Linked DNA regions of Homo sapiens: region 2 is linked to region 1. The links come from fine-mapping of genetic effects on gene expression. A gene starts in region 1. The other region holds a variant in brackets. All regions are shown on one strand. Distances are between the middles of the regions.

Region 1 (8,330 bases):
GTGGGCTCTGTTTCTGGTCTGTACACCTCAGTGAACACCGTTCCTGCTGGGCCTCCCTGACATCCTCCTCGGCTCCAACTCTCACTGGGCTCCAGTAACACCAAGTTGCCTCAGGCCTGGGTATGGCTACCCGATAAAATATAGGACATCCAGTTAAATTTAAATTTCAGTTAAGCAACTAGTAATATTTTTAGTATAAGTAAATATAAGTGCAATATTTGGGACATACTTGTACTAAAAAATTATTTGCTGTTTATCTGAAATTCAAATTTAACTGGTGTTCTGCATTTTTATTTGCATCTGGTGACCCTAGGCCAGGGGATTGCAATGGCCTCCCATGTTGCTAGTCTCTGGGCGCCTCACCATCCTTCACTGTTTCCCTTAAATGTGCCCACAGTTCTGTGTGTCATCCCTCCCCTTAAGAGAATTACAATCTGAGTTAGATGCTGTTTCCTTCTGGGGTGATGACTGACATGCTGCCAGTACATAACAGGCCAAGGGAAGCACTGGGAAGGGGTTACACTTGGGGCTACAGCTCCCAAGACACACAAAAACTTCCAGGCATCCTCTGATTGAGCCTGTAAACCTTTTGGAATCAGGATGAGGTTGAGGAGGTGGGATTAGGCTGAGGGGGTGGGGATTAGGCTGAGGGGTACTAGGTTGGGCAGAGGGGGTGGGGATTAAGCTGAGGGGTGGGGATTAGGCTGAGCGGGAGGGGAATGGGGTGAGGGTGGGGATTAGGCTGAGGGTGGGGAGATTAGGCTGAGGGGGCGGGGATTAGGCTGAGGGGTGGGGATTGGGCAGAGAGGAAGCGCAAGGTGCAGGTGTAACAGCACTCAGCTAAATTTAGGGATTGAATTGCTTCACCTCTTCCTTTTTGCCAGTCTTAGCCTTACAGCCCCACTGTATTATAAAGCAGTCATAAGAACAAAAGCTTGGTATTTTACTCATTCTTTCAACAAATATGTATAAAACCTTGCTGCAAGCCTGGTTATGGCTAAGACACTCTTCAGCCATCTAATCTGTTTCTATTTTTATATTAGTAACCTTTGATAGGTTTTCAGACAGTCCCAGATGACTGAGTGTTGGGACCCTTTGTCCTGGGTCAGGGGGATTGCAGCCTAATGTTTCAGTGCTGTGTCTCCTCCCTCACCCAGTAGGTAGTTTTAGAGCTACTAGATTCTGACAGCTTGTGTCAAGTCCCGTTTATTGCTCAGAAATCAAGAGGAAAATCCACTCTGCCAACTCCCTTGGGATTGTTCTCAGTCGAGGGTGGTAATGGTTCCTCTTTAAAATGATGCTGGAAAAAGTGGGCTTTATTCCAAATGCAGAAAATTGTGTAGGTCAGCAAAACCTGAGAGAAGAGGCAAGGAACAATATACCCATGTCAGAGGGGCTCTCTGGACCCTAACTTTTTCAACACCCCATTCTAATGTGTGTTGAGGTTTTAAGAAAATTAGTGCATCTTTTAGCCACTAAATTCATCAAACTATGGGCCTTTCCAAGAGAGAGATGCTATTTCCAAGATGTTCGTATTCTCAGGACTCAGCACAGTGCAGGCATAATGTGTGCTCCTGAATTAATCTAACGGCCTTATCACCAAGGAACTAGGCCATTGTGTGTATTAGTGGAGTCTCAGCTAGCTGACTTCTGCCTTGTAAGTGCCAAATTTTAACTTGAACCTTATTTTTACTTTTAAATCAATTTCATTGAAGTAATTGGCATGCAATAAGACACACCTCCATTAGTATAGAGTTTGGAGAATTGACAAATATATACATCTGTGCAACCACTTCCCAATCATTATATAAATCATCTCCATCAACCCCAAAATTCCTTTGTGGCCCTTTGGAGTTAACTCTCTCCACTTGACCATTTTTGATGGGAATTTGTCTAAAACACACCCCCACCACTTCATTCCCTGAGAATACCCAATGCAAGTGCCTTTACTATTGACTCTCCGAAGCCTTCATTATGAATATCGGTTTCTGTGGTATCTTAGAAGTGGGTGAAGGAATTAGGCTATTTTGCTTCTAGTAAACTTGCACTGTTTTGGCCGGGCACGGTGTCTCACGCCTGTAATCCCAGCACTTTGGGAGGCTGAGGCGGGTGGATTACGAGGTCAGGAGATCAAGACCATCCTGGCTAACACGGTGAAACCCCGTCTCTACTAAAAATACACACACACACACACACACACACACACACACACAAAATTAGCTGGGCATGGTGGCGGGCGCCTGTAGTCCCAGCTACTCGGGAGGCTGAGGCAGGAGAATGGCGTGAACCCGGGAGGCAGAGCTTGCAGTGAGCCGAGATAGCGCCATTGCACTCCAGCCTGGGCGACAGAGCGAGACTCCGCCTCAAAAAAAAAAACCCAAAAAACAAAAAACAAAAAACTTGCTCTGTTTTGCTTGGGAGGTTCTTGTTGGCTGTTGTAAAATTGTTAATCTTTTCTCTTACACATACCTGTCACTTTTATTGTACGTGTAGTCTTTTTAAAAATCAGTGTTCCTGCTTCTGACCCAACAGCATCCCTGACCCATTTTCTTTCTTTCCTTTTTTTTTTTTTTTTGAGACGGAGTTTCACTCTTGTTGCCTGGGCTGGAGTGCAATGGTGCAATCTCGGCTCACTGCAACCTCTGCCTCCCAGGTTCAAGCAATTCTCTTGCCTCAGCCTCCCGAGTACCTGGGATTACAGGCATGCACCACCATGCCTGGCTAATTTTTTGTATTTTTAGTAGAGATGGGGTTTCACCATGTTGGTCAGGCTGGTCTTGAACTCCTGACCTCGTGATCCACCCACCTCAGCCTCCCAGAGCCCTGGGATTACAGGTGTGAGCCCCCGTGCCCGACCCCCGACCCATTTTCTTATTCGCCTCTTGTAATCTACTATATGGGTCAAAACACCAGATAATCAATCTTATTAAGAATTAAAAAAATAAGTAGGGCACTCAAGAATAAATGGGTCCAGATTCAGTGCATGGACTTGGTGGCATGTGTTTGCTCAAAAGTCTTTTATCCTCCTGGCTCTGGGCTTTGGCTATGTGAAGCCTGGCCATCCTCAGTGCTCAGCTTTTCTTTGACTCAGCAGAGGAAACACAAGTCTGTCTCTTTGATTGCCTCGGGGTGCCATTTTCCACACCCACTTCTCCAGGCCAAATGAGAGTGATTTCACCCGTGCCACAGTTAGAGTTTTCAACTGCAGAACGCAGAAGCTTTCTGTTAAATTCTAGCAGTGTTTTCTTTGAGAGTTTTAGAACAACTGTTTTATAGCAACTATTCCAGTTCCACCACCTGAACTCTTTTATATACAGTAATTTTTAAAATCTCCTATGGTGTCTCTTTAAGAGCCTCTCCAGTTGGCAGCCTTTTCTCTTTGGCTTCTTACCTAGCTCTGTCCTTCTTTGTCCTGCTCTGCAGCATCACTGAGAACTGTTGTGTACGTGCGGACTGTGGGGCTCTTGGCCACACTGAATGGGCCCACAAGGGAACCCCTGGGACACCCTACATTCATTTGGAAATGGCCAAGAGGACTTAGAAAGAAAATAATTGATCCCGCCGTTTCCAAAGGATGGGGGTAAATGCGGTTGTGAATTCTTATGGCTTGGTGAGTTTTGGGTATCCTTCTTTCATGAAATAACATTCAACAGTGGTGTGCAGGCTGCAAAAGGCAGATGAACTTCAGCAACTCTTCCTCAACATGCTGTAAAGGGATAACTCTGGGTCCTAAACACTGAAGCCTGTGCGGGCCTACCTAGCCGAGGCATTCATGATGAAGGGTGACTCATCACTTCCTTGACTCTTAGGCTGTGAAGAATGAAGGTGGGTGGCTGGGCAAGTCACGGTGATCATGGCATTTTGCACTGATTGTGGAGCCTGTTGCTATACAGTGGAGGGGCATTTGTAGGTGGTTTTGAAAAGTAGAAGTCCAGAGAGTGAGTAAAGAGGGAAAAATCAACAGAACTGGGAAAGATGACACATATAAAACCTGAATTTAGTTTAAAAAAACTTTTAAAGTTACTTCTAACAGATAAATTGATCTTGTTTTAGATCATTTTATATAGAAGGTAAATAGTACAATTTTAATCTGAAATGCAAGATAAAGATGAATTGTTTTCCAACAGTTTGTATAATTTTCATGCAAAAAATGAAGGATACAGTAACTCCTTTGTAATGGATAATTTCTGGATGGTTTCTCATTTATGGACTGAATGTATACTCTTCCTCCTGCTCCCACGCAAACTCATATGTTGAAATCCTAACCCTCAATATAATGGTATTGTGATGTGGGGCCTTTGGGAGGTGATTAGGTCATGACAGTGGAGCCCTCATAAACGGGATTAGTGCCCTCATAAAAGAGATCCTGGAGAGATCCCTCTCTCGCCCTCTTTCCACCAAGTGAGGATATAAGAAGTCAGCCATCTGGAAACTAGGGAGAGAACCCTCATGGAACCTGACCATGCCTGTACCTTAGACTGACCTTAGACTTCCAGCCCCCAGAATTGTGAGATATAAGTTTCTACTGTTTATAATCCACCCATCTGTTTTACTTTGTAATAGCAGCTTGAACTGAGATAGGTTCCATTTGCACATGATCTACCTGGGTCACCTATGGCTCGTCCTGCTTTGCTGTTCCTCCAACATTCACCGAGACCTGACTTTATATTCTGTACATATTTGCTGACTTATGTAACATCTGTTTCCCTCACTAGTGTGTAACACCCATGAAAGGAGGTGTTTTATGTGTTCATTTATGCATTCTTAGTGCCTAGGATATGCCTGGCACATATTTGTTAAATGACTGAGTGAACACCAGTGGCAATTTCTTTAAAAAAAATTGATAGCATTGAAAAAATATGGTGGCAAAAGTAATACATTTTCACAGAAGATATTCAGAAAATATAGAAACAGAAAGAAAAAATAAAAATTAACCCCAATTTCACAATGCAGACACAACAACATAAACATTTTGATGTTTATCCTTCCAGGAGTTTTTCAAAGCATTCGTTGGCCTATCTAGCAGGGACTGAGTGAGATGGTACATTGTATATTTATCAAAAGATGCTTCCAGTTTCACCTTGGCCTGGGCAACTGCAGACAGTCTTCTTGGATGATGCTTGTGACTCTTCCCGCAACACCTGAGTGGCCCCTCATGGTTGGGTACATGGGTCCCAAAGCTGAGCCTGAAGTCGATGCTGGGAACTGAGTCACCAAGGGCATGGATGCTTCCATCAAGGCAGACAAGATTTAAAAACCTAGTTTCAGTGGCACTAATGAGACCAATAGCAAACCCAACCTGGGACGTCTTAGGAGACTGGTCACAATTTCCATTTCTCTCTCTGCTCGGCGTTTTTGCACAATCATGAAGAGTTTGGAGAGCAGGAGGAGGCCTCAAAAAGGACATCCTGAGCTTCTTGATAGTGTGTCCGTTGAAGGCCTCATCACTTAATTATAAAGAAAAGTTTTGTTATTAATTTGTCTCCTAAGATTAAATGGATCATATTTATCATTAGGTGCTTTTTAAAAAATAAAATTTACTCCTATTTATTTTGATTCATTTTTTATCATTTCTAAACACTTCCGAAAATGATAAGCTTCCCTGGATGAATACTTGCTTCTCTGACCTGTATAAATTTGCAAAAGGATGAAAAGCAAATAGGAGGAAAGACTTCAAGGCCTGGTGTCTTAAGTTTGTCCCCCCATGAGGAGATAAGGATTCAAGTGCAAGGGGTTCATTTTGGAGGGGGATCTGGGAAGCACCAGGAGGGGTGGAGGAAGTGAGAATGGGCAGGAAAGGGGAGAAAGCCAATTCAGGTGTGCCCACAGCAGGCTATGTCAGAGAGCACTGGTGCTCCCTCCCATCGGGACTTCTGCCAGGGCATGTAGATGCACCTCATGCCTGATGGATGCAAAGCTGAAGCATCTGGCACTAATGCTCATTCATGATTGGTTGCAGGCTGCTTCTGTAGGGGGTCACCCCCTGGTCCTTCTAGCCCGCCCTGTGCACAGGTTGAGGACACTCCTGTGGCTGGAGAAAGCTGGATCTGAAGGTTGTAGAAACTCGCAGAAAGAAGCCATCAAAGTGACTTGGAAAGGTGAGTGCCTGCAGAGGGGCAATGGGTGGGACAGCAGCCTGGGAGATTATTGAGCCTGGCTTCACTGCTAATACAGTGCTGTTTTAATTTCCACTTGGGGCCAGGTGCGGTGGCTCTCACCTGTGATCCCAGCACATTGGGAGGCTGAGGCAGGTGGATCAACTTGAGGCCAGGAGTTCGAGACCAGCCTGCCTAACATGGTGAAACCCTGTCTCTACTAAAAATAGAAAAAATTAGCCAGGCATGGTGGTGCATACCTGTAATCCTAGCTATTTGGAGGCTGGGGCATGAAAATCGCTTAAGCTTGGGAGGTGGAGGTAGCGGTGAGCTGAGATTGTGCCACTGCACTCCAGCCTGGGTGACGGAGAAAGACTCTGTCTCCAAAAAAAAAAAAAAAAAAAAAATTCCATTTGGCCATGTTTCCTTGCTAATAATAGGCTACTTAGATGGAAGGTTACTTGATAATAGGCTACTGGATGGCCAGCTCTGTACTTGGGTCAGTCTTGCTAAAAGGCAGGATTCCCTTGAGGGGTGTGGGTGCGGAGCAAAGTATTGACAGCTAATTGTCATAATAAGGATACCTCCTTTCTGGAGGTAGGAGTCTTTAATTCATTCCTGGGCAGCATTGTCTATCTTCCCCCTTCAACCCTAAACAACTCCCTAAATATCTCCATGTCTGTTGTGGAGGTCTAAAAGGACCTCAGGCTACTGTGGGCATCTCACTGGGTGACCCTTCCCTCAACCTTAGCAAACCTCCCTTCTGGGGACCCCTTCTCTGCATTTGTCTTGGTGGCAAAAGTCTGACTGTTAGTGCTGGACTCTTGGTTTACGGTGAGAGAAGAAGGGGAAGAGAAGCATTCTGACAGCCACAGATTTAAAAAATGTATTTTGTAAGCGAAATATTTCATACTGCCTGGAGATCTTTTTTTTTTTTTTTTTTTTTCAATTGAGACAGAATCTCACTGTGTTTCCCAGGCTAGAGTGCAGTGGTGCAATCTCGGCTCACTGCAACCTCTGCCTGCCAGGTTCAAGCGATTCTCCTGCCTCAGCCTCCTGAGTAGCTGGGATTACAGGTGCTTGCCATGACACCCTGCTAATTTTTGTATTTTTAGTAGAGATGGCGTTTTGCCATGTTGGCCAGGCTGGTCTTGAACTCCTGACCTCAGGTGATCGAGCCACTTCAGCTTCCCAAAGTGCTGGGATTACAGGCATGAGCCAACACACCTGGCCAGATCATTTTTATGGTTATATTTGTTGTATTGAAAAAACCGGGCTCTTTGGATTTCTCCATTAATTTTTATACCTTTCCATTGTTTATGTCTGCAAAGAATTTTTCAAAATGTCTGCTATTATGATATTCATATACCAGAAAGTTTTTTAGGGCTTTAGGGCTATAATGATTTAAAATCTATCTATCTATCTATATCTATCTATCTATCTATCTATATCTCTATCTATATATAGATTTTTATGCTCACACACATATATAAATATAATCCAAATATATATAATTCAAGTATATTGTAATTCAAATATGCATATATATATACTTTCATCAAGAAAAATCTCTATGCACTGACATGGGGATATATCTGTAAACAATAGTTAGAGAATAGTAGGTTTGTGAACAAGAGCAACAATCCCTCCTCCCCTTCTGCCCTCACGACCCTTCCTCTGTTTAGAGAAAGGTCTGGAAGAAAGCGCACGAGACATTTAACAGTGTTTTTGTGTGAAGAGGAGACGGCTAGGTAAGGAGATTTTCACATTTTATTTTACACATTTCCCTCTTGTCTGATTCTACTTTCAAGAAGCATGAACTTTTACAATTAAAAATTTTTAAAAATCCCAAATCCTCAGCCTTTCCCCTCTTCCAGAGGTGCCATAGGAAGCCCCTCCCCTCTTATGAGAGGCGTCATAAAAAGAGGCATCCCCAGCAAAGGCTTCCCAAGATGGGCAGTGCCACTTTAAGTGGTGACCAGGGGCTAGAAGAGGTGGCCTTCTCTGTGCCTTGAAGATACTGAGCTGGGTTCTGCTGCAGCAGAAGATGGAGATGGAAGTATGCAGAAACCAGCTCTCTCCACCTGATGGGAAATAGAGCATTGCTACAGGAAGGCAGCCCCAGGGTCAGATGAGTGAGGGACACAGGGTAAATGCCAACAGGCAAGCGCCCCTAGGTGGTTGGATACTTATAGTGACCGATCCCACGGAATGGTGGGCAAAAGGATGCCGTGG
Region 2 (8,335 bases), 60 kb after region 1:
TAACCCCCTCTCCAAATCTTAGTTAAAAAGAAGCTTTGTTTGCTTGGTTTTCCTGGTGTGGATTTAAATATTTCCATTTTCCATGCCCATATTAACATTTGACCATCCGTGTGATGTGCCAATTTCTATTTTGCCCTTCAAAGGTTAAAATAACACCCACCCTTAGAATTCCCCTCACAAAGCACAAGGAAATCCCTCCTAAGGCACAGCGAACCAGCTAGACTTCATAATTAGCTTCTGTAATGAAGTACTTAATCGGAATAGAAGCCCTTACTAATTACAGCAGGAAGTCAGGGCAGGCGGGTTACCCACAGCTGGGGTGAAGCACAGGCAGAGGTGTCTGTGAACACGCATCCGCAAGGGTCCAGGTTCACACAAGAGCCCTAGGCCTTAATTAGCCCCAGCAATTAAAAATGAAAACAATCCTCCATTTTCTCATTAAAAGATGAAACCACACCCCCCCAAGCACCTTACTCTGAATGATAATTTTGCTTCTGCAAAGACCCCAGCTACTGCAGATTACCAAAGACAATGGTTAGTTCCTGGGCTGCAAGACCTGAGTCACCCTTTTGCTTGCTAAATTTCAGGCACCTCTGCATAATAGGAGATTGATTAGGGTTAATAGACTTATTTTTTGCAGGTCAAGACACAAAACACTTTGGGTTGTGGGCGCTCTTGCACATAATATCCGAAGCTATAAATCAAACTGCTTAATGGAAGCTCAGAGCTTTCTGTCTCCGAACTATTGGTAACAATTGACTTTTGTTCCTCCCCTGCTACCGTCTCTCTTTCCTCTGCTTCTTCTTGTAAATTCAGCCACAGAATCAGTCTGATAGATAAAGGGTTGTGATTTATTTACTCTACAATGTTTTCAGAAACCTAGAGGTGAGGTATGGTTCCTTGGAATTCCTGTGTTTGTTTTACCTCCATTTCTAAGGTAACCAGTGGCTAGCAGCAGCTGTAACCACTGTCAGCATCTGTCAATCTCACCTAGACCTGATGGTCAAAAGTAATACAGCTGGATGAAGAGATTTAAAAATTAAAAATGAAAGAAAACTGATCCTCAGGGGAGAGTTTGAGAATTTAGTCCGTGGGACCCAGGGCAGACTGGTAGGTCACTGAGTGCATAAGGAATGCAATTGCCATTGGCAAATTATCCCAAGAAGGAAAGCCACATGCAGCGGGAACCTGTTGGAGACTGCCTCTTAAAGTTATGCAGAAAGAATCACTGAAAGGAAACTGTCTCAACAGGAGGAAATGTCAGAAAATGCTTCCCTAGAAAATGTGATAAAAAATTTAGAAAAGTATCTGGCTATGAAATTTAAGAACATTTGGGGGAATGTTCTTTGCACCTAATTATCAGTGCTTTCTGCTTCTTTTCTCTTGGTGAGGGATATTCTTAGTCCAAGGATTTTTTTTCCCCCTTCAAATAGAAAGAAAGCAAAGCTGATTTTCATATATAAGTTGGTTTGGTTTTTCATCAATTTGACAGGATCATTCCAAAGATGTTGCCTTATTTGATTCTGAAACATTATTGAGAGATTTACTCTACTGAGTAACTGAGGACTCACGAAAAATACATTTGATGATATCTGTAAGTTTCTTTGATGACTTGTTCTTTCCTATCCCCGTTTTTGCCTGAATCTTTTTTTTCCTCCTTCTTTCTACTCAGAGCTACATGGCTCAACCACAACCACAAGGAGTCAGTAAGTGGGCAGGTTTTCTCAAACTTCATAGAGCTGTTACTCTACCTGGCTTCTAAGGGGAGACCTGGGAGTTGAGAGAATGAACATAAAATAGTTTGGGTCAGGAGTGGAAAGGGAGGAAAGATTAGAAGGAAACAAGAAAAGCAGAATAATGCACTCAGAATCTGATTTTTATGTTATGGTATACTAATATGGATTTTCCTCCCTTTTTAAACAACATAGAAATTCTTAGTAGAATCTACACATACAGTTTAATAGCAGAAGTAGATGGAAGTCCCTTGATGCCAATAATAATAGATACCTAGTCATAGTACCCCTCTCACCCTCAGTAGCCTCTGGCAGCCTTGCTGAAGGCTGGGGCCATCAGACCTGGGAATGCAGCTGTGAGCTGGGACTAAGGTTTTGTTGCCCTAATGGAACTGGAGGAAAGGAGGTGTATCTTTGGCATTGCATGAAGTGGGTGGCTGTAATTGAGCTCCCTTCTACATAGCCAGGATCCTCAAATGGCCTCCAAGTTTAGAATAATAATAACAAAAAGAAAAATTTGTCTCCGGGCTTGGAGACATTGTAAGAAAGCACAGGGTCTGTCTCAGGCTCCAAGTAAATCTTTAAAAATTAGACAATGTCCTCTGAAAAATCAAAATGTCAAGTCTGCACTAAACATGGGTATAAATTCTGAATTTATATGCATGGTGTGATAATCCCAAACTGAGAAATTGACATAAAGTGGTCCAGAATTCACTGTGCTCCTGGGAGAAACCAATAGAACACTATTCTTAGGATCACTCAGACTATTCAAGAAACCCTCAATAAAGCGGGTTCATCAAGGAAGAACTCATAAGAAAATTACGATACAGGCAAAGAAGCAAAAAACCATGAATGAGAATTATTAAGGCAGCAGATAGGAGAACTAACACCCAGACAATTAGAAACATAGCAAAAAAACCACCTGAAGAAGATTAAAAGGAAGATCTAAGATCCTTTCATTGTTTGAAGAAGGCAGAGAGGTTGATAAAACTATGTTGAATATGTTTGCTAAAAATATAAGGATAATGAACTGAGAAATAGGGAAAGAATGTACAACTTTTGAACAAATCGAAGGAAGAGAAGAAAATTCCCACATAATTCAATAAAAAGCAAGAAAGGAGGAAAATAAATGGAGAATGATAATTAAAAAATTAGAAGGTAGAAAAGTGTTCAGATATGCCAGTAGTTCTAAGTGTAAACGTATTACACTGTTTTGTCAAATGACAAAGATTCTCACACTGGAATAAAACAATCAAATAAAAAAATACTAAATTATATGTTATTTTTAAGAGATCCATCTAAAATATGATACAGAAAAGTTGAAAGTAGTGGCATGAAAAAAGATACAGTGGGCAAAAAAGAAAAGAAAGCTGATATAGTGACCTTAATATCAGACAAAATCAACTGTATTAGAGATAAGGGGAATCTTTTCTTACAGATAAACACAAGTCACTTGGAAGTTCTAACAGTCTTGAATCAGACAGCCGAAAAATGTGTAACGCAAAAATTTCCTGAATACGAAGTGAATCCAACATTATAGTGGAATTTTGAACACATCTCTATGAGTTACTGAAAAATGGAGATAAATATTTTCTAAGGATATAAATGTTTTACATAACGCATTCATAAAGCTTAATATGATGAACATATTTAGAATGTCCACCCAATATAAAAGAATCCATTTCCAATAAAAAAGCATCTTCATATTTTAAGTAAAGAACACTTATAAACATTGTCCATATACTTGATTACAAAGTCTAAATAAGTATCAAGAAAACAATATAACCCAAACTATGTCTTCTAACAAAGATGAAGTAAGATTATAAATTAATGACTAAAAGATAATTTTAAGAAATTCTATTCACTATTAAGTTAAAAATACTTCTAAATAATTGATGGGTTAAAAATAATTCAAATTGATAGTTACAAAATATTAAGAACAATAGAAATTGCAGACAGTTCATACCACAACTTGTACAGTTAAACTGATATTTATAGGGACATTTATTACCCTAAATACTGTCAATGCTTATATTAAGAAAAACAGGCCAGGTGCAGTGGCTCACGCTTGTAATCTCAGCACTTTGGGAGGCCGAGGCAGGTGGATCACGAGGTCAGGAGATCGAGACCATCCTGGTTAACACAGTGAAACCCCATCTCTACTTAAAATACAAAAAATTAGCTGGGCGTGGTGGCGGGCACCTGCAGTCCCAGCTACTCGGGAGGCTGAGGCAGGAGAATGGCGTGAACCCAGGAGGCGGGGCTTGCAGTGAGCCAAGATGGTGCTACTGCACTCCAGCCTGGGCGACAGAGCAAGACTCCATCTCAAAAAAAAAAAAAAAAAAAAAAAAAGACTAAAAATTAACCAATTAAGCATTTGTCCCAAGAAGTTGAAAAAGCAATAGTGATTAATAGAGGCTAAGAAGGGGATGAAAAGAAGTTGGTTAATGCATACTAAAATACAGTTAGATATAAGGAATAAGTTCTAGTATTTGATGGTACAGTAGGGAGATAATACTTAATAATATATTTCAAAATAGCTAGAAGAGCAGAATTGGAAAG[T/C]TCGCAACACAAAGAAACAATAAATATAAATGTTTGAGGTTATTGATGTCTCAATTACCTGATTTGATCATTAAACATTGTACACATGTATCAAAATATCATATGTACCCCTAAAATATGCACGACTGTTATGTATCAATAAAAATAGTATTCATAAACAAAAAACAAAAAGAAGTTGGAAAAACAATAAAAGCACAAGCTCTCTAAAAGTAAATAAAAAGCAATAATAAAGATAAAAGCATAAATGAATCAACTAGAAAAACTTACAGAGGTTAATAAAACAATGTAAATGGTGTTAATAAATATGAACCCATAGACAAATGAACATATTTGAATAAAAATAACTATAGTTATTTCCTCAAGAAAATAAGAGAAAGCCTGAATATACCCATAACGTGCAAAGCCATTAAATTAGTATCCAGGTTCTGTTAAAAATAACAAACATCTAACTGAAATAAAGAGCCAAAAATAGGCAAGTCATCTTTTAAGAATAATAAAGAAAAGCTTGTCTTGAAAGAGAGAGACCAATGGAACAGAATTATAGAATTAAGCATTGAGAAACAGCTGATACAGGACAGAGAAGGCACTCCAGATTTGTGAGGAAGGGATGAACTGTTCACCAAAGGATGCTGGGGTAATTAACTTTGCTGATGGAAAAGAGTAAAGGTAGATTCCCTCTGGCAATGTCTGGCCTGGAAGGTGGGATTTGTGGCTGGGGTGTAGAACGTTTAGCTGTATCTATAATATTTCATTTCTTTAAAACAGTATCTAAAATTATATAAATAAATATGGCAGAATGGTAATGTTTGTGAAATCCAAATCATTATACATTGGGGTCTGTAATATTTTCTTTGTACTTAATTGTATGTGGAAATGTGTGTGCCTATACATTATATATTTATTTGTAGAATGAATATACTATATAATAAATATGTATGTGTAATGCATTCTTTTTTTTTTTTTTTTTTGAGACGGAGTTTCGTGCTTGTTGCCCAGGCTGGAGTGCAAGGGCGCGATCTCAGCTCACTGTAACCTCTGCCTCTTGGTTTCAAGCGATTCTCCTGTCTCAGCCTCCCGAGTAGCTGGGATTACAGGTGCCCCCCACCACACCTGGCTAATTTTGTATTTTTAGTAGAGATGGGGTTTCACTATGCTGGTCAAGCCAGTCTTGAACTCCTGACCTCATGTAATCCTCCTGCCTCGGCCTGCCAAAGTGCTGGGATTATGTTGCATGAGCCACCACGCCTGGCCGATGCATTCGTTTTTTAAGCCAGCAATTGTAAGTAGGAGACAAAAAAGACCTTTTATGTTATGCTGAGGAGTTTGGACTTCATCCTCAGGGCAGCGGGGAGCCACGAAGGGCTTTTAGACAGGAAGGTAAATGACTGCATCATCTCGTAGGAAAGATCTTCCTGGCTGCAGTATGGCAAATGGATTAGATGCAGTATGGCAAATGGATTAGATGCTGGAGGTGCAGCCATCACTGAAGTAGCTGTATTTCAGGGTAAAGATTATGGTGCCTGGAACAGGGAAAACAGCAGCGATGATGGAGACAGGTGGGTTGACTGGAGAGGGGGTAAAAAGAATTTCCAGGCTTTGTGTTTTCTTGGTGGGTGTGGAGAGGTGGGGAAGAGTCTGGGCTCCTCCCTGGGTCTGGGCCTCAGGACGCTGGGTACCTACCATTCCCTGAGAGAGGCTAGAGGAGCAGGAAGAGTTGACTGAGTGAAAACTGGAATTGAAATTTGAATATACTTTGTTAGAAGTGTCCTACTGCATCCAAGTGTAGGGTTATTAGGTAGGTATTCTTTTTTTTCTTTCTTTCTTTCTTTTGAGACAGGTCTCACTCTGTTGGCCAGGCTGGAGTGCAGTGGCGTGATCTTGGCTCACTGCAACCTCTGCCTCCCAAGTTCAAGCGATTCTCCTGCTTCAGCCTCCCAAGTAGCTGGGATTACCAGGCGCGTAGCACCACACATGGCTAATTTTTGTATTTTGAGTAGAGACGGGGTTTCACTATGTTGGCCAGGCTGGTCTCGAACTCCTGACCTCAGGTGATCTGCCTGCCTCGGCCTCCCAAAGTGCTGGGATTACAGGCATGAGCCATTGCGCCCGACCCGGGTAGGTATTCTTTTTTTTTTTTTTTTTTTTTTTGAGACGGAGTCTGGCTCTGTCACCCAGGCTGGAGTGCAGTGGCACCATCTCGGCTCACTGCAAGCTCTGCCTCCCGGGTTCACGGCATTCTCCTGCCTCAGCCTCCGGAGTAGCTGGGACTACAGGCACCCGCCACCAAGCCCGGCTAATTTTTTGTATATTTAGTAGAGATGGGGTTTCACCACGTTAGCCAGGATGGTCTCCATCTCCTGACCTCATGATCCACCGGCCTCGGCCTCCCAAAGTTCTGGGATTACAGGCGTGAGCCACTGCGCCCGGCCCCAGGTAGGTATTCATGATGATGGAACCCTGTTTTAACTAAAGCTTGTCTTAGAATTGTAGTAATCTAGCATGGCTTGAGTCTTCATCTGTAATCTAGAAATTTTTTATTTGTAATTCACTACTGTCAAGTAACAAACTCTCTTTCACTAGCTTAGAACCTTCAAAAAATATAACAAATCAGAAATTAACTTTTGAATAAAATATAACCATAGGGTACTTCTTTAATTATTTAACAAATTTAATGTCTTGTCTGATTTTCTTCTAATTTGCCTGTCATCAGTTTAATGATGTTACATGTCTAAAATGCTGTATAAATGTAAAAATTACTATATCTTAACAAAATTATACATGAAAAGGTTAATTTGACCCAACGAATGATAAACACATGCTAATTCAACAGGTTAGAAGAAGGTTTCACCAGTTACTCTTATTGATACAATGATTACTCAGGCCAACTCATATTTTAGTTTTTCTTTTCGAAGTTATTTCTCTGATATTGAGGAGACACTGTAATTTTAAACCAAGAGGGACTATAAAGAGGTGTAATTCATCATTGCCCAAGCTATCCTCAGTGGACATCTTCAAGATGTTAACAGATGTTCCATTAAAAAAATTTAAAGGGTAATGTGGCAAAGTAAGTTTGGGCAATGATAAACCTTCCTCCCTCTGAAAAATCTGTCTGTGAAGAAAGATGTTTTATTCTGTTTGATGTGGAATAATTACATCTCCCATCTCACAACATTCTTTTCCATGGAATACCACAGTAACACTCTGTGGAAGGCCTGAATGGTACCCTGGCACACTAATACTCCACAGGATGCAGAGGTAAGTTAATCTCACAGATGAGGACAGGAAGGCGAGGTGTACTTCTGTGTGCCTTCTCCAGGTTATGGTGTTGGCCCAAGCTAAGCCAAAGCAAAGATTCAGGCCTCCTGGACCCCCGATTCAATAACCTTCTACTGCATAGACAGTAGCATTGTCCGTTTTGACAAATAGCACGGGTGGTGTTGAGTTCCTTTCTTTCTTACATGTTTACATTTCCTTCATTGAGGGAAAGGGAGAATGACTCAGACTCAGCAGGGGCCAAAGCTCCCTGGACCCCAGCTTGCCCCCTCCCACACCCACAGTCCAGGGCTGAGGCTTTTCTGAGCTCCCTGCGTGGAAGGTGGGGAACCCATAGGTGAGGAGCCCACACCGTGTGCTGGGGAGTTCCAGGGGTTCCTGGAGGATCATGGTTACTCTCCTGAGGGCACAGGACATGGAGCAGGGAGAAGGGCTGAATAAGACCCAGATCCAGGTTTGAGATGAAATGTAGAACTGCCATGGAGGTTGTGCACTGCACAGCTGTACACAGTGGTGTGAGAACACCAGGAATTCCAGCTCCCTAGCCGGTGGGACTGGGGATGGTGAAGAAACAGCAGAGAAAACAACCAAGTTCAAAATTGTATGCTCCAGAGCCAGTTAATGCAATAAAAATAAGGGCCATAACTTCGAAGCATTTAGTGAAAGACTGTCCCCATTTAATATTTCAACATCAAAATCACCTTTGGAATAGGTATTTTCACCCCTATTTCACACTTAAGAAAACTGAGGTCCCAAATGATATGCTC

What was found. PIP is the estimated chance that this variant, and not a neighbour inherited with it, causes the effect.
Region 2: its variant is the best candidate, but not a certain one, in a credible set for the expression of CDRT8 in atrial appendage (GTEx, PIP 0.86).

The regions. Positions count from the first base shown.
Region 1 is chr17:15,102,205-15,110,534 of GRCh38, reverse strand. CDRT8 (CMT1A duplicated region transcript 8) reads left to right here and starts at 4,348. Exons shown (of 2, transcript NR_103559.1): 1 at 4,348-4,507; 2 at 4,992-5,550. RefSeq lists an enhancer at 3,366-4,565.
Region 2 is chr17:15,041,944-15,050,278 of GRCh38, reverse strand. All of the region lies in intron 1 of LOC101928475 (a long non-coding RNA gene), which reads right to left. Among named protein-coding and RNA genes, the nearest start is that of CDRT7, 15 kb to the right of the region's middle. The variant T/C (reference allele first, on the strand shown) is at 4,296.